Linked DNA regions of Homo sapiens: region 2 is linked to region 1. Evidence: fine-mapped QTL for protein levels in blood plasma. Region 1 holds a variant in brackets. A gene starts in the other region. All regions are shown on their forward strands. Region 1 overlaps TOX (thymocyte selection associated high mobility group box). Region 2 holds the start of CCL13 (C-C motif chemokine ligand 13).

The links. A credible set is the group of variants that fine-mapping cannot tell apart. PIP is the posterior inclusion probability: the model's chance that the variant is causal. The UK Biobank Pharma Proteomics Project read protein levels with antibody pairs (Olink). The fine-mapping took linkage between variants from a reference panel, not from the people measured, so its PIPs are less certain.
Region 2: it holds the start of CCL13, and the variant in region 1 is the best candidate, but not a certain one, in a credible set for the plasma level of the CCL13 protein (UK Biobank, PIP 0.61).

The regions. Positions count from the first base shown.
Region 1 is chr8:58,828,738-58,831,654 of GRCh38, forward strand. All of the region lies in intron 5 of TOX (thymocyte selection associated high mobility group box), which reads right to left. Among named protein-coding and RNA genes, the nearest start is that of NSMAF, 170 kb to the left of the region's middle. The variant G/C (reference allele first, on the strand shown) is at 1,343.
Region 2 is chr17:34,354,801-34,357,717 of GRCh38, forward strand. CCL13 (C-C motif chemokine ligand 13) reads left to right here and starts at 1,680. Exons shown (of 3, transcript NM_005408.3): 1 at 1,680-1,802; 2 at 2,675-2,789. The coding sequence starts at 1,727.

The DNA.
Region 1 (2,917 bases):
TGTTTATAGTTTTTCCTTAAAGCTCTTCTCAAAGACATAATTTATAATTAATGACCTTAAACTGACAATGTTTACATTTGCTTTTAATACCTCAAAACTTTCAAGAGGGTTTTTCTCCCATACAGATAGAAATCCTATTCAGGACTTTGAAGCAAACATTTAGTCAATACGTCTTTTATGGTAATGCATTTTTGTATACCCTAAGCATTTCTATCATGCTTTTATTAATATGCTACTCCAAGTGACTCCCATTCAGCTAACTAGGATGCGTTTTGCTTTCAAAGGCAAATAGAATGCACTTTGGTTCATAGCATTGCCCACAGTGGCATTTTCTAAGTTGTGGCAGATAAGACAGTATTGCCAGATGGTCTGACTACGGCATCTATCATTTTTCTTTCATTGGTTTCTACTGAAACAGCAACAGTGTGACTACGATGCTATCCCTTTGTTGAGCTCCTGGCAGTTAACATCACACAAAGTGTTAACTTTCCTGAAATTTGTTGCTTAACAACCAGGGAAGAAAGGTGGCTAACTCCACATGTTTCAGGCTGCATAGATGCCCCTGGTTTCCCTCCAGAATCGATGTTGTTACGGGATACCTGACTAGCATGCAGAGTCCCCTGTTTTCTACAAATGGCTCCCTATTGGCTATTGATGATTGGCTATGTGGGATCATCGCATAAGTGCCTAAATACCACTTTAGAAAAGAGTAAACTCATCACGTCACATTACATGGATTGATGGATACACTCTTTCCTGAATAGCTGCAGATGTTCAGAGGGAGAATTCAAAGGGGGGTCATTTCAGAAGGTAGATTCCTGTAATTGTGTTGAAAGGGGAGTAGCCTGGACCAGAATTAAAATCTGAGGTAGTCTCCTCAACAGTAATTAGCACCTCAATCTTTGAGAACTACCTGATGGCTCCCATTTTGTACACTCTGTATGTCTTTCTGATGTTACCTTCTAAAATTGGACAAGGATGTTGCTTGAATTCTATATTTAATGGAAATGTCTGAAGAAAGGCCTCAACTATGAATGAATGATAATGATATATAAAAATTCCACATGCAGGTGAAGTAGGGGAAATCCTTTAAAAAAAGATGTTTAAAAATTATCAAAAAAAAATCTCTCAAAAACATTTCAAAGCCTCTAATGATAGATAAAGAAAGTCCTCTGCTTGCAGAGAGCAAAGATGTCCCAGCACGGCATTTGGCAATGAACAACCACTGCCATGAGCAAGTGCACAGACCTTCTAACTGACAAGGATGGGTCTGATTTATGTCAAAGTTCAGTTTAGGAAAGAAATGGTCTCTCACTCTTAGGGAAAGACAAATATTTTAAAG[G/C]TATGTGATTCATACAGTAAATATTAGTATTTAGTTGAGTTACAAAATGGCTTCCAAATGGTCCACAGCTGTTTGAAATAAAGTACAAAGTTGGCCAGATGAGGATTTAAAAATCATAATACATCATTTATCATTTTCCCCCACTCATCTAAACACGTTTGAGTTCATCCTGTCCTAACTAAGTTATATGCTGTGGTTTTTATTCCAAGAAAGCTACCATATCCCATCTAAGGATTGCATCTCAGTGGCTAAACTAAAACATATATAATGGCTAAACTAAAACATACGTAGATAGTCATCAAATAGCAATTCTAGAGAACCCAAATCCTGTCACATGATCTAGTGATTCACTGAGGCATTTTTGAAATGCTCTAAATACCAGCATATACACGTTTTCATACGCTTATAATCCCTAATTGAAATCAGCAGTTCAATATCAACGATATGACAAACTCAAACAGAAAAAATTTCCCATACAATCTGTCATTTTCCTTTTACTTTCTGCTTCTTCCCTAAACAAACAATCCATCCAGCTCATATAGAAAAGCAAAATCTTATAAATACCATTTAATTCCTTCTTCCTTCCTTCTTTTCTGCTCTGGCCCTTAGTTAATCTCTAGTCATAGTTTATTTTAACAGTCTTTACAATAATAAGAAGAAAAAATGTAAAATTCTTCCAATTCTGGATTCTATCCAAAAACTAAAGGCATTCTTCATTCTGGGTAAGTTCAAATGTCGTTTTTCCCACTACTATTTCATATTTATAGAAAATCCTTAGAAATGCATAAGGATTTAGAATTTAACCACAATTCCCTGCAATATTTTTTAGAAATTTAAAATTTTCAGCTTCTTTCAAGGCTGTTGTTATTTAGGTCAGTTAGAGCAAGTGCATCTATATTTTATATAGAACTTAGTCCATTTAACTTAATGGTTAAATGTCCATCTTGTATAACTCGCTCAGCATTTTCTTAGGCTCCAAGGCCTTCACAAAGTGGTATTCAGAGGATTGAAAACATTATACAATGTGACAAACATCTTGCTATGGATTCCTTTTGAGGACTGTCTGACCCACGTAAATGGTCTCAGCAACACCGGTTTGACCTGTTTCTGGAATGGTAAGAATCCGAACCGAGGTCCTTGCCTGAAAAAATGGCTACAAAATACATATCTGTTGATTTATTAAATGAAGGTCACTAAGGAAAGTATGATGCTGTTCAGTTATGCTTACCAATCTATTGAGTGCCCAGTATGTGCCTACTGTGGTGTGAGGCACCGATGTTATAAAATTAAAATCAAAAAGTCATTAAAAATTACGCCTCCATTGTGTGCATTTTGCGGATCATGCACTCTATATATTACCTCTAATTCTTTCAATAAAAATGTTGCATTGGCATAATGAATATGGGATAATCCCCGTTTTGCAGATAAGAAAACAGACTAGAATGGGTAATTATTTTACCTAATATATTAGAACAGGTATATGGTAAAACCATGGTGTGAATAAAATGAGTCTGGTGTCAAATGTTCCATCTTTCTTTGCTCAATGGTTTGTCCTAGCCATGAGAACTCCTTTTG
Region 2 (2,917 bases), not on the chromosome of region 1:
CACTTCCTTCAGTGCTTGGAGGAATTAGCTGTTTGTGCCCTTTGAGCCCAGAGAATGTTTTGTGGGAAGATTTTCAATTCCTGATTCCATTTCTTTAATAGCTTTAGAATGACTTTCTATTTTTTATTTATTTGTGCACCCTGGTCAGTTAGATTTTTAAGAAATTCATCCATTTCCTCTAAACTAAATTTTTGGCATAAGGTTCTTATCATTTTCTTTTTGGTGTCTGCAGGCTCTGCAACTGGTTATATGTACCTTTTTCCTTTTTTCTTTTCTTTTTTTTTTTTTCTGGGACAGAGTCCTACTCTGTCACTCAGACTGGGGTGCAGTGGTGCAATCTTGGCTCACTGTAACCTCGGCCTCCCAGGTTCAAGCAATTCTCCTGCCTCAGCCTCCCAAGTAGCTGGGATTACAGGCATGTGCCACCATGCCTGGGTAATTTTTGTATTTTTTTTAGTAAAGACAGGGTTTTACCATGTTGTCCAGGCTGCTCTAGAACTCTTGACCTCAAGTGATCCCCCCGCCTCAGCCCCTTTTTTCTTTTTTTTTTCATTTTCAGTTCAGGAGAGTTTTAGCTTAATTATAGGCTACAGAACCAGCTTTGGGCTTCATCTATCCTTTCTAATATTTACTGTTTCCTATTTCTCTAATCCTAGCTCTTTATTTCTTCCCTTTACTTTCACTGGGCTTATTTTGCTATAGTGGAATGCAGAGGGATGAGTATTCCAGGAAGGCACAAAAACTGTGCCAAGTCTTGGAGCTAGGGATGAGTGGGAAAGGGACATGTTCAACCATTTTAAGCCATTCCCTCCCCACCTCCCAGCTCCCAGATATGTGCCCCTCGCAGGAGGAGCCCAGGAATGGGCCAAACACCTCACTTCTTTGCTCTGAGGGCCACCCCAGCCCTCCCATCAACAGCTCTAGAAACCCAATGGTCCTTCCTGGAAACACGGGGCCTGCATCAATCAGAGGTGTTTGAACCATGTCCCTCTGGGCCTGAGGGGCAGAAGGGGACACAATATGTAATGTAAGGAGCCCCTGTCATCAGAAATCTGACTTAATCTGTTTCAGATATTAGACTTCCACATAAAAGTTGACTTGGAAAAAGACTTCTGCTGCTAAACAAAAGTTGAAACTGCCTTGGTGATAAAATATAAGCAGACCAGCTTTCTCTTCTAGCTTTCCCTCTCATTTCCCATAAGATTTTGGTCAAGTTATTTAATCTCTCTGCATCCGTTTCCTCTTCTATGAAATGGGCATGATAATAATGGTATGTACCTCCTCAAACTAAATATATAACGTGAACAGAGTCCTTAGCACAGCACTCTTTCTCTACAGGAGTTAATTTTCATTGTTTTTCTCTTTCCTGTTGGAGAAAGTAAGAAGAAAACAGCTCCTTTATGGCTTCCCATGGTGAATGGCTGGGGCGCGTCTGTGTCCCTTTCTCCTCTCTGGCTCCTTGTGGCCTGAACAGCCAGAAGGAAGCCATGCCATGCTGTTTCAGCCCTCAGCTTCCCTCTTGCATTTCCTAGAAAAGTCTTTGGTGCCCAGCTCCAGCTCAGCAGATTCAGGATCCCCCTTCATCATGACTTGGTCAACGCCCTGCTCAGGCCAAGGTCCTCTGAGAGTTCCAAGCTTCTCCACTCCCTATAAAAGGCCGGCGGAACAGCCAGAGGAGCAGAGAGGCAAAGAAACATTGTGAAATCTCCAACTCTTAACCTTCAACATGAAAGTCTCTGCAGTGCTTCTGTGCCTGCTGCTCATGACAGCAGCTTTCAACCCCCAGGGACTTGCTCAGCCAGGTAAGTCACCTCCCTTCGACTCTCCCTCTCTTTCCCTCTGTTTCTCTATTCAAGGAAGACCTAAGCCCGAGTGCTCCTCCACTTTTTTTTTAGATTGAGTCTCATTATGTTGCCCAGGCTGAAGTGCAGGGGTGCGATCTTGGCTCATTGCAACCTTCACCTCCCAGGTTCAAGCGATTCTCTTGCCTCAGCCTTCTGAGTAGCTGTGATTACAGGCACCCGCCATCACGTGCAGCTAATTTTTGTATTTTTAGTAGAGAAGGGGTTTCACTATGTTGGCCAGGCTGGTCTCAAACTCTTGACCTCAAGTGATCCTCCCGTCTCGGCCTCCCAAAGTGCTGGGATTACAGGCGTGAGCCACCAGGCCCAGCCAAGTGCCCCACTTCTAAGCCCACCAGAATAGTAAGGCTCCTCAGAGGTTCACTTTAACATCTAATTTTAAAGATAGAAAGCTGAAGCCCATGTTGGAGGCAGAAGGGACCCTAGCCATCCACCTCCAGGTTATTGCAGAGCAAGAATGAAACCTAAGCTTCTGACTCCAGATTTAGGGCCTTTTCTTTGACCTCATCTGATCGTCCCAAACTCTGCAGATCTGGGACCACACCCAGGACCTTTCCCACTGGCCTTGCCCGTGGCCTCCCCTAGATGGCTGTGACATGTCTCCACCATGCAGCTGAGCCTTTGAGATCCTGAGGCACATGTCACAGGTCCCACCTCACCTCAGGGTCTAGGGTGGGAGTGCTGGGCTTGGGGGTGAGTAAGATCTATTTCTTCCTCTTTGCTTTGCATCCCATACAGATGCTCCCTGCTGTATTCAAGCTGAGAAAAGCCTAACACATCCTCAAAGTCTTTTTCTTTGTAACTATTTCTAGATGCACTCAACGTCCCATCTACTTGCTGCTTCACATTTAGCAGTAAGAAGATCTCCTTGCAGAGGCTGAAGAGCTATGTGATCACCACCAGCAGGTGTCCCCAGAAGGCTGTCATGTGGGTAGAAAAATCCCTGCTCACCTGGCTCCTCCCCACTCCCACATTCCCCAATCCAAAGTTCTGCCCCAGGAGACAGACGTCAGACTGACTTGAGATCTTAGGATGAGATCTAGCCAGACTGTGTG